Regions from separate parts of the Homo sapiens genome. Here all the other regions are linked to region 2. The links come from fine-mapping of genetic effects on gene expression. A gene starts in region 2. Each other region holds a variant in brackets. All regions are shown on one strand. Distances are from middle to middle. Region 1 overlaps ADGRA1 (adhesion G protein-coupled receptor A1). Region 2 holds the start of CFAP46 (cilia and flagella associated protein 46). Region 3 overlaps CFAP46 (cilia and flagella associated protein 46).

Region 1 (5,550 bases), 170 kb after region 2:
TTTAAAATATGCTGTTTAATTCTCACAGATCTCTAGATAGTCAGGGAAAAAACCACCCTGTCTAAAATTGTGCTGCAACTTTTAGTGTCAAGCTGAATGAAGGGAGTCCCCACTTGATCAATGCAGTGTGGTTTTGGGTGGCTTGTCTCTGCAAGGAGATCTTCATTACAATGATGAAAAACATTTTTTCATTTCTTTTCTGTGATTTGGGTACAGCAGAGGGGTGTGAGGGAGTGGGTGACCCTGCACATCCTGCTGTGTGGCCTGCCCTGGCCAGCCCAGCCTTCTTCCCTTTCTCCACATGTGAGGAGTGGAGTGGATGTGGGCACGAGGGGCCAGGGAGTGCCTCAAGGTTAGGCCTGGACCAGGCATCACACAGACCTCCCCGAGCACACCTGGGAGTGTGCAGGACCTGCTGCCCTGCTGGTGTCTTCAGTGCAGGCATGGTTGTAGGTTGTGTGTGAATCTGGTCCCTGGCCCCAGAGCTCTGCCTCGGGGCCTCCTGTGGGTGAGAAACCACACAGAACCTGGCGTGAGCCTTTGGCCAACAGAAGTGTCACCCTCAGCCTTGTAGGGGAGAGTTTAGGAGAAGGACAGGTGCAGCCTCAACCGAGGAGTCCATGGACTCTTGGCACTGCTAAATGGGGCTAGGGTGACTCCGTGGAGAAGGAAGCAGGGAGGGACACCAGAAGGGAAGGAGGAAGAGGATTGGCAGGGAGGAGACAGAGGTGTTGGACACAGGACCCCCCAGGCCCACAGAGGCACCGGCTCAGCCACCCAACCCCTCACAGTGGTGCCTCCTTGGATTCAGGCACCCTCACCTTTGACCAACATGGTGGCCACTGTCACCTCCCAATACTCTCAAGATTCTAGACACTAGACTCTGTTGCAAGACTCTGTTGCCAGTCCACAAAACACCATTTGCAGTCTGCCCACCAGTCCTGACCACTACACACATTTGCCGCAGCCTCCTGATGCCTCCCTCAGATATCCCAAGACAGCTCAATACTGGGTGCATGTGGCCCCAGCTCCACCCCTCCCCTCACATCCTCCATGGTCCCAGCTCCACTCGGCCCCAGCTCCACCCCTCCCCTCATGTCCTCCATGGTCCCAGCTCCACTTGGCCCCAGCTCCACCCCTCCCCTCATGTCCTCCATGGTCCCAGCTCCACTCGGCCCCAGCTCCACCCGTCCCCTCATGTCCTCCACGGTCCCAGCTCCACTTAGCCCCAGCTCCACCCGTCCATCAGTCCCACAAAGGAACCAGCTCCACTTGGCCCCAGCTCCACCCCTCCCCTCATGTCCTCCATGGCCCCGGCCCCACCCCTGCCCCTCATATCCTCCATGGAACCAGCTCCACCCCCACAATGTCTTTGCAGCTCAGCAGCAGCACTGCTCTCCCAGCATTCGTGTCTGGGTGCTAGACATTTTGCCAAACTCTCTACCCCCTTTCCCAGATCAGGCCACACCTCCAGGCCCAGGAGTCTTCCCCACCTTTCCTGTCCCTCCTCCTCTCCCAGCCCCCGCTCCCTGGACCTCATCTTTCCTGCTCTGTGGACTGCCCTGACCCCAGCGGGCCTCCAGGTCCCTTTCTCAGCCTCCTGCTCTGCCACCTCCACACCACCTGGATACTTTTTCTCCCCAGCTGGAAGCCTGACTGCTTGCCCCCACGACCACTCCCCAGACCCCCCATTGCTGCTCAGCTGTGGCTCAGAGCCTTCCTGTCTGCCCCTTCCTGGCCTCACCTGCCCTTTGAGCACTGAGGGTCGGTCCCTCCAGTGGGATGGTTACCTCCCGTCTCCATTCCAGCCTCCTCCCTGCACCTCAGCTTCCTCTTAAGTGAGACCCCGACCTTCTGCCCGGTGCCCACCTCCTATTGCAGAGCAACTGTCCCCTGACCTCTCCTCCCCTCGATGACAATGACGGGAAGGTCCCTCCTGGTTCATATTCTCCAGGCTTGGCATCCAGCCCCTCCTGATTAAATGTTGAAACCAGAAAGAGACAAACGGCAGGGATGTAGTAAATATGTGTGAAATCGGCCTCCAGGCTCAGCTGGGCTGGATGTGTCGATGGAAAGCAATCAGTTTCATACTTTGTTCTGAGGCTTGGGTGAGCAGCACACTGCCCGTCATGCAGTGTCAGGCCCCACGGCCTCTGCACACTCAGGGCGGGGCTGGAAGGACTCGGGACTCAGCAGTGGTGGCATTCCTGGGTGTGGTTTGTCTCCACAGAAAGATACACTCAGGGAGGGGCTGGAAGATACACTCAGGACTCAGCAGCGGCGGCGTTCCTGGGTGTGGTTTGTCTCCACAGAAGGATACACCACAGGGCCAACGAGGGAAAAGACATCCAGCAGGGTCCAAGACTCCAGGTGCCGTCTCCAAAGTTCTCCTGTCCTGGGAGACGGCAGGTGGGGAGGATCCACACGGAACCTGCTCCTTCCTCCAGCAGCAAAATGCAGCAAAGTGTGCCCCGCACTTCTGCCCAGGAGGCCGCTCAGGCTCAAGCTCCGCATTCTTGCTGGGACAGGTCACTCCTGTGTGCTCTGCCAGCTCCGCTGGCCACAGCTACGGAGCCTCACACTCTGGCGGGAAGGCAGGTGCTGCCGTCAGTCATAAGGTTCATGCAAACAGCCCAGGCTGCTGTAGTGCCACATCCTGCGTCCCTGCACACAGAGCAGCCTTATCAGGCAGT[G/GA]CGTGGGGAATGTGCTGAAAGCCACTGACCCAGGCACCTGCCACGCCCCAGAGCTGGCCCTTCTGCAGAGCAACACTGAGCTGCACAGGGTCGAATGTTCAGAGAGAAGCTCCTTGGATCTGCCATTTCTAACTATATGAGTGAGAAGAAAGAAAGCCTGAGAGAGAGAGAGTCGGTAAGAAATATAAAGAAATACTGGAAGAAAAAGAATAAGGGCAAATATTATGCACCCTGAGCTGACCCTTTGTACACAAAACAAAAGCCAGTGGTCTGATGCCCATGTCTGAACAATTAGCCTGCTTCCTCTATACCCATATCTCACAATCCAGATTTATTTTCCGGAATTCTGTTTTGACCTCTATTCAGCCTCTTCCCCTTCCTTGTCTTTAGTTTCCTGCCCAATCCCTTTGCCGCAGAGTGATGTCTGCATGGGGCCCTGGACACAGGTGCTGCTGGATAATTCAGTGATCCCAGGTCCCCAAGCACCTGCTCCAATGTGAGCACAGCCCACTGAAGGGTTGTTTCTGAATCTGTTAAGTGGAAATGTGGCTGAACTGGGGAGGTTCTGGGTAGGCTGGGCCACCTGCCCACCAGGGACACCTGCCCTCCTAATCCTGCCAAGCCACCTGCCTGCCATGGGCAGCTCCCCTCCTAATCCTGCTGGCCACCTGCCCGCCAGGGGTGCCTCCTCTCCTAATCCCACCAGACCACCTGCCCGCCGTGAGCACCTCCCTCCTAATCCCTCCAGACAACCTGCCCACCACAGGCACCTCCCTCCTAATCCCACCAGACAACCTGCCCACCACAGGCACCTCCCTCCTAATCCCACCAGACAACCTGCCCCCCCGGGAACCATCCCTCCTAATCCCACCAGACCACCTGCCCACCACAGGCACCTCCCTCCTAATCCCACCAGACAACCTGCCCACCACGGACACCTCCCTCCTAATCCCACCAGACAACCTGCCCACCACGGACACCTCCCTCCTAATCCCACCAGACAACCTGCCCACCACGGACACCTCCCTCCTAATCCCACCAGACAACCTGCCCACCACAGACACCTCCCTCCTAATCCCACCAGACAACCTGCCCACCACGGACACCTCCCTCCTAATCCCACCAGACAACCTGCCCACCACGGACACCTCCCTCCTAATCCCACCAGACAACCTGCCCACCACGGACACCTCCCTCCTAATCCCACCAGACAACCTGCCCCCCCGGGAACCATCCCTCCTAATCCCACCAGACCACCTGCCCGCCACGGGCACCTCCCTCCTAATCCCACCAGACAACCTGCCCGCCACAGACACCTCCCTCCTAATCCCTCCAGACCACCTGCCCACCACAGGCACCTCCCTCCTAATCCCACCAGACCACCTGCCCACCACGGGCACCTCCCTCCTAATCCCTCCAGACCACCTGCCCACCACAGACACCTCCCTCCTAATGCCTCCAGACCACCTGCCCGCCGTGAGCACCTCCCTCCTAATCCCTCCAGACCACCTGCCCACCACAGGCACCTCCCTCCTAATGCCTCCAGACCACCTGCCCACCACAGACACCTCCCTCCTAATGCCTCCAGACCACCTGCCTGCCATGGGCATCTCCCTCCTAATCCTGCTGGCCAGCCCACTTTGAGGAAGGGCCTCTAAGTAGACAGAACTTTCCACATTTTCTGCTCCCTTTGCCAGCCAAAAGGAAGACACTCCAGAAACAAGCAGACCTTTTGTGATTTCATAGGTGCTCGGGGGCTGATTCCCCATTTAGCCATGAATAATGACATCTTAATTTTGCAGTACGGCCACCCTTTCTGATCAAGTGCACCAAGCTGTGTCAGTTATTTGGGGTCTGCGGGCCGCATCGGTTATCTGGGGTCTGCAGGCTGCGTCAGTTATTTGGGGTCTGCGGGCCGTGTCGGTTATTTGGGGTCTACGGGCCGCGTCCGTTATTTGGGGTCTGCGGGCCATGTCGGTTATTTGGGGTCTACGGGCCACGTCAGTTATTTGGGGTCTGCGGGCCGCGTCGGTTATTTGGGGTCTGTAAGCAGTGTTGGTTATTTGGGGTCTGCAGGCCGCGTCGGTTATTTGAGGTCTGTGGGCCGCATCGGTTATTTGAGGTCTGCGGGCCGTGTCGGTTATTTGGAGTCTACGGGCTACGTCGGTTATTTGGGGTCTACGGGCCGCGTCCGTTATTTGGGGTCTGTGGGCCATGTCGGTTATTTGGGGTCTACGGGCCACGTCAGTTATTTGGGGTCTGCGGGCCGCGTCGGTTATTTGAGGTCTGCGGGCCGCGTCGGTTATTTGGGGTCTGTAAGCTATGTCGGTTATTTGGGGTCTGCGGGCCGTGTTGGTTCGGTTATTTGGGGTCTGTAAGCTGTGTTGGTTATTGGAGGTCTGCGGGCCACGTCGGTTATTTGGGGTCTGCGGGCCGCGTCAGTTCGGTTATTTGGGGTCTGTAAGCTGTGTCGGTTATTTGAGGTCTGCGGGCTGTGTCGGTTATTTGGGGTCTGCGGGCCGCGTCAGTTATTTGGGGTCTATAAGCTGTGTCAGTTATTTGGGGTCTGCGGGCCGCGTCAGTTATTTGGGGTCTATAAGCTGTGTCAGTTATTTGGGGTCTGCGGGCCGTGTCGGTTCGGTTATTTGGGGTCTGTAAGCTGTGTCGGTTATTTGAGGTCTGTGGGCCACGTCGGTTATTTGAGGTCTGTAAGCCGCGTCGGTTATTTGAGGTCTGTAAGCCGCGTCGGTTATTTGAGGTCTGCGGGCCGCGTCAGTTATTTGAGGTCTGTAAGCTGTGTCAGTTATTTGGGGTCTGTGGGCCGTGTTTCGGTTTGGAAGTCCAATGGCACCGCGGC
Region 2 (5,550 bases):
GAGGTGCGGGGTGTCCTGACCAGACGGTCACGCCTGCTTGAGTCAGAGGGGTCATCATGGGACTCCAGCGGCCTGCTGCGTCTCCCTGAGTGCTGCGTCTCCCTGAGTGCTGCGTCTCGAAAGGAACCCGTCTCCTCCCTGTAAGTGGCTCTCCCCAAATTCCCACTGTGGCCTCCACATGCCCGTGGTTGGGCTCACAGTCTCCTGTCCCACTGACACTGCCCTGGACAAGCCAGCGCTGCCCTCTCTCTCCACACAACCTGGACCCTTCCCAAAGATGGTCCTGACCTCTGGCAAGGCTCTGTCACCCCCTGACCCGTCCACAGTGCCCCTGAGGGCCCTGGAGCAGAGCAGCCTCCTTCCCATGGTACCCACCACTCCCGCGTCACAGCACCCTTGGAAATACCCCTTGTCTTTAGAATCTGTGGCTTGAGGTGGGGCCTCCCCGTCCCTGTCCCCATGCAGAGAGGATCTGTGGGGCTGGGCCCTACATCCCCAGCACTTGCAACAGGGTGTGACCAGAGAAGGCCACCAGCAGACAAGCAGGCCGATGTGGGTAGAACAGACCAGGGAACCCACAGCTTCTATTTAAATATCCTCCAAACATTGTATCCTATTTGAATATGTGATATATGTTCAAGCAAATATGCTTGAAACTGTCAAGCTTGCACAAAACTGATTTGAATAGGATATGAATCAGTTTTGTGCAAGCTTAACAGTTTGAAGCATGATATTTGTTTTTGTGCAGAAAGCACTGATTTTGTAGAAAGTGCTGGAGTCGCCTCCGCAGGGACAGCGGCCTTGGCCAAGTTGTCCGCTAGGGAGCAGCAAAGGCACGCTGGGCCGAAGAAGGAACCGTGGGGAAGGAGAAGGCGCCCTGGGGGTGCGCCCGGGGAGGCCCTGGAGAAAACAGACTCTTTTTTTTTTTTTATTGATACAGAGTCTCGCTGTCATCCAGGCTGGAGTGCAGTGGCGTGATCTGGGCTCACTGCAACCTCCGCCTCCCGAGTTCAAGTGATTCTCCTGCCTCAGCCTCCCCAGCAGTTGGGATTACAGGCATGTGCCACCACGCCCGGCAGAAAACAGACTCTTCACAGCCATCTAAAATCACGAAAACCGCCGAGTGCAAAAGAGGCTGTTACTCGGAATTCGGCATGAATGTGGCCTGTCCACACGCTGACGAGATGAGGGAGTGATCACACGTGCATGAAAATCACAGACCACAAACGAGGGGAAACCCCACAGTTCAAATAAATACACCCACTTGATAAGTTCTGGCTCTGAAGTCTTTCACCCAGTCAGTGAGAAACGGCCACTTCAATTTTGCCTACCTCGGTTCTCCTTTGGCAAAGTTTATGGCCTTCATGTACTCAGTCACGCAATTTTCAAATTCCTCCTAAGGCAACATAAAGAAGCACAATTAGACCGAAATACTGACCCCTGCTCACTGCCCCATCTGCGGATGCCACGGCTCCCTCACGGTTGGCCTGGTACCCCCTGTGTGTCACCTGTGTATCCACAGGTGACGGTGTGGCAGACACAGCCTGAGTGTCGTGGCGAGGTCCTGGACCTGCACCCGGGTTCCCGTCCCGCAGACACAGCGAGGCAGCAGAAACCGCAGTGCCTGTGCTCCAGCACGCCCGCCCCACCCCAGCTCCCCTGTGCCCACTCGGGGCAGCTGCAGGCGCAGATGCCACAGAGACCACGCTGCTACGAGGCAAAGGTCCAGGGGTCCTGTGTGTCAGATATCACCACTTGAGCAAAAAGCATGGACAGGAAATGGTGCAAGTTTCGTGTCACTCTGGAAAGGAATTCCTTCACTCTACTACCCTAAGAACGATTTTAAGCCTGGTCTAGCCTGGCATTGCTCTGGAGATGGGGTGAAAATTGAACTGTTGGGGATAAGGGGCACAGGACGCCTCTCACCAGGTTTTCTGCCGACTTCGGGGCACACATCTGGGCCCTGCACAGGTGCGCTCGGCCCAGAAACTGGGTGATGGGCGCCTTCACCTTGAAGTACATTTGGATGCAGTCCTCGCTCACCTCTGGCTGCCTCATCTGCAAGAGAACACCACCACAGAAGATCACAGACCCGGAGGGGTGGCCTCCCTGCCCAGAAGCACCACGGGCCCGCTTTCAGAACAGGCCCCCAGCACAGGTGGAGCCTGTTTCCAGCCCCATCCTCCATCCTGGCCCCTTGACTGCCCGGCCAGGAGCTGCCTCTCCCCAGCCCCACTCTGCATCCGCTGCACACCCAGAGGCCCTCCCTCTCCCTGTCAAAGCTGCCCTGACCGAGGATCCCGGGAACTAGTTACCTTCAGGGCCTGCTCTGCACACAGAACAAACAGGTCTGGGCTGAAGCTCTCTGAGGGGTCAAACTCCGATTTCCCTAGGTTGGCCGATTTGATCAACTCGTAGGCCTTCTTCAAGGACGCAGCATCTGTCCCAAACGGGTGGTTGAGGAAGGTTTGGTCACTGGGCTGGGAGAAGTGAGCCGGGCAACGCCATCCCGAAGGCCCCAGGCAGCCGCCTTGGGCCCCCGGGCCACAGCCACCGTCAGAACCTGTCGCCGCCAGGGAGCAGCGGTGTGGGCGCCTTCCTGTACGTTTGCTCTGGTCAGACGATCGGGAGGTGGGGGCTCCGGCTGTGGCCCTCGAGGGATCACCCATTGGGCGGGCTGGGATGAGAGGGTCCGGGGCCTCCCCGGGGCGGGGGTCGTGGCGGGTCCCGGGGCCTCCCCGGGGCGGGGGTCGTGGCGGGCCTGGGGTCACCTTGCTGGCTCTCGGCGCGGGCCAGCTCCTGCGTGATGACCAGGTCCATGGCGCCGGCGCCCTGCTCGTCCGCTCTCTCCGGGGTCCGCGGTGCGTCCTGCCGCCCACTGTCGGTTGGGTTCTCCAGCCGCGAGGACCCGGCCACGGTTGCCTGGAGACCGAAAGGGACGCGGACGCGGGGCTACGGGTCGGCGGCGGGGCCACACTTCGGGGAAGGCGAACAACGCCGCGCCCCCGCCCTGCCCCCCGCCAGCTCCGCGGGAGTGAGACACCAGGGCAGCGACCCCCGGCGAGGGGCGGGAAGAAGAAAGGGGAGGGAAGGCGGCGTGGGGGGACGCCGGGGGCTCCGCGCGGGCCTCCTCTCCCCGCTCAGGGCTCCTGTGTGCCCGGGTTCTGGTCCTGACCCCGGGCTCACCCTCCACCTTCCCCGGGAACTTCCGACTGCGTCCTTCGCGCCTGCGCTCGTCGGCTCATTCATTCATTCATTCATTCATTCATTCATTCATTCATTCATCCATTCAGTCAGTCAGTCAGTCAGTCAGTCAGTCATTCCTTCATTCTTTCGTTCTTTCATTCATTCCGTCATTACTTTAACAGGCGGTGATTTGCCCCTGCCACGGTGCTGGAAGTGCAGCGGGCACAGAAAGTCGCGCAGTGGAAATGCGGGCTGCGGGCGTGGATGGGGCCGCCGGGTCTGGGGACGAGCTAAGACCTGGCAGCAGGGGGTGGCCGAGGCGGGAGGAGCAGACGCAGAGCCCCGGCCCCCACGGAGAGGGTAGCAGCGCAGCCACCTGCCCCCCGGGGCTCCCCACCTCCCAGCCGGGGCTGCTTTCCGGCCGGGGTCCGGACGGCGCCTACGACCGACCCGAATTGGAGGCTTGGCGGGGCGCGCAGCCCCCGCGCGGGGAAGCCGGAGCCACTGAAGGACTTGGGTCGGCCTGGGGAGGGGAGGGCCCGGGACTCACCCCGGGGTGGGCACACTAGGGGAGCTCTAGGGGAGGCCCACCTGGGGTAGGCCCACCTGGGAGAGGACCCCCTGGGAGAGGCCCACCCACGAGAGTCCCACGTGGGAGAGTGGAATTCCACCCGGGAGAGGCCCACCTGGGAGAGGACCCCCTGAGAGAGGACCGCCTGGGAGAGGCCCACCTGGGAGAGTGGAATTCCACCCGGGAGAGGCCCACCTGGGAGAGGACCCCCTGAGAGAGGACCGCCTGGGAGAGGCCCACCTGGGAGAGTGGAATTCCACCCAGGAGAGGCCCACCTGGGAGAGAACCCCCTGAGAGAGGACCGCCTGGGAGAGGCCCACCTGGGAGAGTGGAATTCCACCCGGGAGAGGCCACCATACCTACATGGGATCAAATAAGCTGCCTGGACATAGTTTTGAAACCTGAACGTCGTATGTTTCTCAGGCTCCTAGAGCCCCACCCCGTCTTGAAGTTGGCAGCCTCAGATCCCTGCTAAATGACCATATTCCTTCCCAAAGACAGTTCTCAGATGGGCCTTTGTTGGTAAAGACACTCCACACATGGGTACAGCCTCGATAAAATATTTATCCCCTCAGAGAAAGTATATCCAAACATAATGTAGTAAGAGATTTCCCAAATCCAAGGGCATTAAATATTAAAACTCAGTTTTCTAGTTACACATTAGCCTTAAATATCAAGAGTGCAACACAAAATTATCACAGAACGCAGGAAAAGGAGATGAGAAAGGCCGCAGATGGGCAGCCAGGTGGGCCGGGGCACAGGGCAGGGTCGGAAAGGGTCCCCAGCCCAGGAGCTTCTGTGTCCGTGGAGTGGGGGGCACCACCCTCCTGGCCCGTGGATGTGTTCAGCAACCTGGAACTGCTCGGGACCCATAGTCCAGGCATTCTTATGGAGGCTCCATCGCAGACATGAAGGATGATGGTGGATGATCCCTGGAGGAGGGTGGGTGCAGGGTTGAGAGCTGCAGGTGCTAATCCTGGCTGGTCTCTCTGGTGACTGGACCCCCTCCAGGAGCCACCAAGCCTCACCTCATTTGAATGGAAGAATCTGCTGCCATCACCCAGGAAATTCGAGGGCTTTTGGAGCCCTGTGCGGGGTCTCGGGAGCAGAGACCAGATCTATTCATTTCTCATTTCATCACCCCATCTTGCCAGGTAGAGACGGTGTCTGTGTCTGGGCTCCCAGGCTGGACCCCAGAGGCCTGCTGTATATGCGCCCGCTGGCGTTGCCATCACGGGGCACTCTCATGGGCGGCTTAAACAGCGGGAAAGGAGGCGGGAAGGCCGAGAACAAGGTGCGGCCGGAGTTGGTTCCTTGGAGGGCACCCCGCGTGGCCGTATGTGGTCGTCTTCTTGTCTGTGTCTCGGTGTCCAAATGTGCCCATCTTATATGGACACCAGCCATGGGGTTTAGGGCCCACCCTGGGACCTCCTGTTAAATAGATCACCTCTGTGAAGACCCTGTCTCCAAATAAGGCCACATTCTGAGGCCGTGGGACTAGGACTCCAGCATAAGAGTTTCAGGGGGACACAGTTCAATCCATGACACTTGCTTAACCAGAAGGTGGTGAGAATTCTGAACATTTGTAATTTCATCAGGTGAAAGCCAGGAAGATGGGTGAATTGTTGTTTAAAACATCTCAGAATATATACATGAGCAGAATGAGCAGAACAGAAGTTAAAGATAGAGCTTCTTCCAGCGCAGGTGAGGCCAGTAATCAAATCCCACTGGTGTGTATGTCCGTAAAAGAGAACTTAGTTGAAATCGACCTGGCATCCCAGCTCCTGGGGACA
Region 3 (5,550 bases), 32 kb before region 2:
CCTCGATGGCACTTCCAGCCTCCGGAACTGTGAGCAGGAACCATCTGGGGTGGGAGCCCCCCGGTCTGTGGCCCTTTGTCCCAGCCTCTGAAGGCTGAGGCCCCCCCTTTCTGTGCCTACAATGCACACGCGGCCAGCAGGCCACACACCCCTCCTGCTGAGGCCCACGTGACTTCAGAATCCTTCCTGACCAGCTTTCCACGGGGCCACTGCTGACTTGTCCATGAGGGCACGGGGCCGGCAGGACGGAGGCTGCCTGTGCACATGGCTGAGGCCTGTGGGAAGCTTTCTGGACTGGGCCTGGAGACCTGGTGGAGTGCTCACCTGCTCCCTGATCTGTGATCGCCGCCCAGGCCCGCGCTCCCTGCCCGTTTTGGGGACCTGGTGGGGCGCTCACACGCGCCCTGATCTGTGATCGCGGCCCAGGCCCGCGCTCCCTGCCCGTTTTGGGGAACTGGTGGGGCGCTCACCTGCTCCCTGATCTGTGATTGAGGCCCAGGCCTGCGCTCCCTGCCCGTTTTGAGGGAATTTGTCCAGTCATGAGGGTTACTTACGGCCCAAATTTCTTCAGGTACTTGATGCCCATCTCCAGAGCCCTGTGAGCACAGGCCATGGTGGTCTCATGGTCACGCGCTGCATGGGCGAAGTGGGTCAGCCGCGTCAGGGTCTGCAGCTCCACCAGGGGGTCCGACCAGTTGCACTCGGAAGCCATTTTCACCAACTTCCGGTGGGTGGCAAGAGAAGGGGCACCGTGTTAGCAACAACGAACTTCCCACGGCCTGCAGCCCCCACGGACCACGCAGCGCATGTGATCCTAAGCAGAGGCGTGGCCTGTGAAGGGCCACCGTGCCACAAAAGCTGAGCTGCCACGTCCGTGCCTGTGAGGACCCCTGATGTCCTTGTAGCTCCCACACCCCACAGGGTGTCCTGGACACGGGACTGGCGTGTGCAGCCCTTGGCTGCCCCTGAGCGGCTCAGGGTTGGGTGGGAATGGAGGGTCCGCTCAAACAGCGTTTGCCTCGCACCAGGAGACAGGGATGCTCTGAGCATGGAGCTGAAGGAAGTGCGTCGAGGGGGCGCAGCTCCGTTGGGAGGTGGGGGAGAGCGGGGCAGAGTGGGGGTGAGCATGCACGATGGGGCTCGAGTTCCAGCCACCTAGGGCAAGAGCCTCGGCGTCCTCGCCTCTTGGCCCCTGGCCTCCCGGGACCCCTGGGGACACCTACCTGGGCCAGGGAGGGGACAGTGAAGTCCATGAGGCCCAGCCCGTTGCATGAGTACATTTCCAAGGCAACGAGGACTCTGGTCACCGAGCTGACATCCTCATTGGTGCCCTGGTGGGGAGGATGCCCTGAGTGTATCAGCCCAAGCGTGCGGGGGGAGTCTGGAATATGCGTGAATTTAACACTGCAAGGTATTAGTTTTATGGCAATAATCAGACCACAAAATTGGGAGCGTTTATACCTTAGGCTGTTTTTGTAACTGTTGACCTGCAGGTCATCTTCTCATACAACGAGGAGCCCCAAGTCCGTGCGGCCCCCATGTGTGAGGCAGCCTTGTCTGAAGGCTGGGTGACCCCCGAGGAGGGAAGGACCAGTGGGCCTGACATGGTGGCTGCTGGGGCAGGCAGGTCAACACCTGGACCCTCCCCGCCTCCCTGGGCCCCACTAGGGCCTGGCTCCTGGCCAGGCTCCAAGGCCCCTCCTCCATCTGGCTTTCCAGGAGCTCATGGGGCCGGCCCTGGGCCCACTCCTCCTTGGGAGAGCGCAGCACCCCCACAGGCCCAGCAGCTCACAGACCCCGTGGACGGGTGGGCAGAGGAGGCCCCGTGCCACACTCAAGGGCAGCCAGCGGCGGTGAGCTCAGTGGGAAAAGGGAGTGCCCAGGCCATCCGTGATGGCTCCATCTGGAGCTAAGTGGTCCCGGGGGCCCCACCACCCCCGGCTGTCTCAGATCTCTATGTCCACAGGGCCTCAGTCAGAGCCCAGATGTGGGCAGGGGCGCCCACCTGCTCCTCGGTGCCCAGCCGTGGCCCAATCTGCTGCTGCAGCAGCTGCTTGGCCTTGACCCAGGTGGCGATAAGCTGCTGCCGGGTGCCGGTGGGCACCGTCTCCTCGGGCGCACTCCCATTGGTCAGGTTCAGGGCAAACTCGCAGACCTAGGACAGACGTGTTCTCGGTCACGAAACCTGAATTCTAAACAGGGGACCTTGAGCCAAGATCCGAACCATTAAAAGATGGATGGAGCCCGCTCCTGATCCAGCCCGTGAAGGGCCTTAAACACGAGACCTCAGGCCCACCAGCGGCTGCACCACAAACCCAGCAGATGAAGCCCCACCCCCAGACGCCGAGGACGCAGCTGCCACCTGGCCTCCAGTGCGCCCCGGCCCTCACTCCTGAGCTGTCCCCACGGCATGGGCCTGGGACCCCGCAGGAAGGAGCAGCTGAGCCAGCACCCCTCCCCCACTGCAGCTGGTATCGGTTGGGGGTGGGGCAGCAAGGACGGAGCCCCGAAAGTGGGGGCGTGAAATCTGCCACGTGCTTTGCCTGCAGTGACGGGCATGTGGGCTGCTGCCCTGAGCCCCTGGGCTGCGCCCCAGCTCCCTGTCTTGCTGGCCGTGTGACCAGGTGAGTTTCTTCATGCTGTGCGCCTCAGTTTCCTCATCTCTATGTAGAAATGAAACCCAGTCTATGGGTCGTCGTGAGGATCGGTGAGTCCTTGTTCAGAGCCTCGCCCGGTGCAGGAAGCACTGGCCACCGGGAGTGACCTCTTGCTAACCCAGGGATGTCCCATCTCTCGCTGCCTTGTGAACACCTGCTCCTTGCAAAACGTCTTGGTAGCACAGACACCTACTGGGCAGCGTCCTTCCCTTTCCTCCCCTCCATCCTTCCTTCTGGATAAACTTCCAAACATTTGTCAAGTTCCACACAGCCATCCCATCGGAATGTGTTTGGGGAGCACTCACTCCCCTGTTCACCACCTGACTCCCCGTGCGGTTGTGCACATGCCCAGTCCAGGCACCGCCCAAGCCGGCTTCCTCACACTCTCCGCCATTCACTCCGTGTTCCCGGGCTGCCAAGTCGGTGCTGGCATTTCCTCTCAGCATCTGGATCCAGCCATCATCACATCTAAGAGGGAAGCTCCTCTGCACCCCCCAGCTGCCTCCC[A/G]GGGCCCACAGCAGGCTCAGCTGCACCCACAGCTGCCTGAGCCGCCCACGGCGCCCTCCCCTCCGCAGCCTCCAGCCTGATCCCTGTAGGTCCCCGGAGCCGGCCCCTTGTCCCTTCTCGGAAGAACGACCTGCACCTGATGCCACAGCCGGTGTTCCTGGCCGGCCCACACTGACTGCCCAGGGCCAGCCGTCCCCACTGGGAGCTGGGAGCACTAGGGCCCTCTCTGGCTCTGGCCTGGCGCAGCTGACTGTGAGCGTTGTGAGTGCCGGGCCGCAGGCTCAAGACTCTCCAGCCCGCGGTTTTATCCATGGCCCAGAAAGGGTCATGCAGGATGAGCTTTAGCACAAAGTCTTCCGCAAGGGTGGGGACAGCTCCCCCGCCCCGTGCCCCTGCGGAGACACTCAAGGCCTCCCTGCCCCCGCCCCACCGCGGGTGCTCCACACACAGGCTCCAGGAGGTTCCCCACAGACTCCCTTGACTCATTAGGAAACCGGCTTTCTCTCGGGTTCTTTGAGGCTCTTCTGAGTTAGAAATGGGCAATGGCTCATCAAACACTTCTGCAGCATCTGTCAACGAGAACACTATTTCTTTTCCCTTCCTTTTGGATTACAACAAAATCCACATTCCATGGGATAAATGATCCGCCTGGGCCACCAGGATCGTCCCACACACTGGGTCTGCTGCATTTTACTGGGACGGCTGCATGTGTGGGTGGTGTGGTCCCTGTTTCTCGCCGTTCCAATCCGCCGTTTCTGGTTCTATTTCCACTCTCCTCTAGGCCTGGAGCCCGCCCTGAGGGGAGGCCTCACACCCACCCACGGGTCTTGTTTTCCTCTCTCCAGCCCTGGCCTTATTTCCCAGTAACTGGAGCCCCTGACGTTTTACTTCCTAGATTGTTCTCACGTCTGTCGCCTCCACTGAAGGCAGTTTGCTCTCCCAGGGCCTTTCCAGGAGCCTTCAGAAGCTCAGCCCCAGCCTCCAGCTACAGGTCTGCAGGGCTCTGTCTCAGGTCAGCTGCCTCCCTGCTCTCTCCCTCCACCCCCACCCCCCCACCCCCACATCTCTCTCTCTCTCCTCTCTCTCTTCTCTCTCCTCCTCTCTCCTGTCCTCTTTCCTCTCTCTCTCTTCCCTCTCCTCTCTCTTCTCCTCTCTCCTGTCCTCTTTCCTCTCTCTCTCTTCCCTCTCCTCTCTCTTCTCCTCTCTCCTCCTCTCTCTCTCCTCTCTTTCTCCTGTCTCTTCTCCTCTCTTCTTCTCTCTCTCCTGTCTCTTCTCCTCTCTTTCTCCTCTCTTCTCTCTGCTTCTCTCGCCTCTCTCTCCTCTCCTCTCTCTGCTCATCTCTCTCTCTCACCTCCCTCTCTCCTCTCCTCTCTCTCTCTCTTCACCTCTCTCTCTCTTCACATCTCTCTCTCCTCTTTCACCTCTCTCTCCTCTCCTCTCTCTCTCTTCACCTCTCTCCTCTCCTCTCTCTCTCTCTTCACCTCTCTCCTCTTTCACCTCTCCTCTCCTCTCTCTCTCTCCTCTCTCCTCTCTCTCTCTCTCTCTCTCTCTCTCTCTCGGCATCATGGAGGTGGTACCTCCACCGCTGTTTTGATCTCGGAAGTGGCTCCTGCGTCCAGTGGGCTGTGAAACGCGTTTGGTCGCATGAATTTCCTGGACTTCTCGGCAGCCTGGACTGGAATCCAGCTGATGATCAGGCCTCGCGCCAAGGTGTTGCAGAGCGTCACCAGCATCACGGGGTCCCTGGGAGACATGCTTGTCAGAGGGAACCTTGGCCCCCGCAGGCCTCGCCCCGATCCCATGTGCTGAGTCCTCAGGTCACGGTAAGAGGCCTGAGATGCACGGGTGCCCACGACCCTCCTCTGCTGGGACACAGAGGGCCATGGAGTGCAGCTGCCTGCCTTTGCTCTGGGGTCTCCCAAGGGAAGAAGCCCCTCCCTGCGTGAACGCAGCACAGCCCACACGCACCCACTGTGGCCTGTGGCCTTAACGATGCTCAGGAGGTGGTACAGGGCGTCCACCAGCTCCTTCTGCCGCCCGGCCAGGATCAGGTGGTGGTTGTGGTTCAGGACGTAGACCACGGCGTTCTGCACAATCCACGCCTCCTGGATCTCCTGTCCGATCTCTGCGGAGCGCAGCCAGTTATTCATGGCACACCGGGACAGACTCTCGATCCAGGTTCTGCAAAACGAGCACCACCAAGCCCTTAATGCAGGGTCCCCAGCCCCGGGGCCAGGCACCAGGAAGGCTGCGGGGCCTGTTAGGAACCAGGCTGCAGGGCAAGAAGTGGGAGGGGCGGGTGGGCGGCGACCAAACTCCATCTGCATTTACAGTCGCCCCGCCGCTGGCACTCCCACCTGAGCCCCGCCTCCCGTCCCATCAACAG

The links. PIP is the estimated chance that this variant, and not a neighbour inherited with it, causes the effect. A credible set is the group of variants that fine-mapping cannot tell apart.
Region 1: its variant is the best candidate, but not a certain one, in a credible set for the expression of CFAP46 in spleen (GTEx, PIP 0.51).
Region 3: its variant is the best candidate, but not a certain one, in a credible set for the expression of CFAP46 in monocytes after Pam3CSK4 (Quach 2016, PIP 0.66).

Annotation. Positions count from the first base shown.
Region 1 is chr10:133,107,762-133,113,311 of GRCh38, forward strand. The region is part of intron 5 of ADGRA1 (adhesion G protein-coupled receptor A1); the gene reads left to right. Among named protein-coding and RNA genes, the nearest start is that of ADGRA1, 23 kb to the left of the region's middle. The variant G/GA (reference allele first, on the strand shown) is at 2,694.
Region 2 is chr10:132,939,665-132,945,214 of GRCh38, forward strand. CFAP46 (cilia and flagella associated protein 46) reads right to left here and starts at 2,906. Exons shown (of 58, transcript NM_001200049.3): 1 at 2,772-2,906; 2 at 2,316-2,440; 3 at 1,927-2,058; 4 at 1,332-1,396. The coding sequence starts at 2,820. It overlaps LINC01166 (long intergenic non-protein coding RNA 1166), which reads right to left. Exons shown (of 2, transcript NR_120627.1): 2 at 4,303-5,550. It overlaps LOC105378572 (a long non-coding RNA gene), which reads left to right and starts at 3,703. Exons shown (of 3, transcript XR_007062348.1): 1 at 3,703-4,911; 2 at 5,356-5,461. RefSeq lists enhancers at 2,219-2,802, 2,803-3,386.
Region 3 is chr10:132,907,914-132,913,463 of GRCh38, forward strand. CFAP46 (cilia and flagella associated protein 46) reads right to left here. Exons shown (of 58, transcript NM_001200049.3): 18 at 5,133-5,345; 19 at 4,742-4,907; 20 at 2,006-2,155; 21 at 1,224-1,331; 22 at 555-721. Among named protein-coding and RNA genes, the nearest start is that of CFAP46, 32 kb to the right of the region's middle. RefSeq lists enhancers at 4,114-4,921, 4,922-5,550. The variant A/G (reference allele first, on the strand shown) is at 3,165.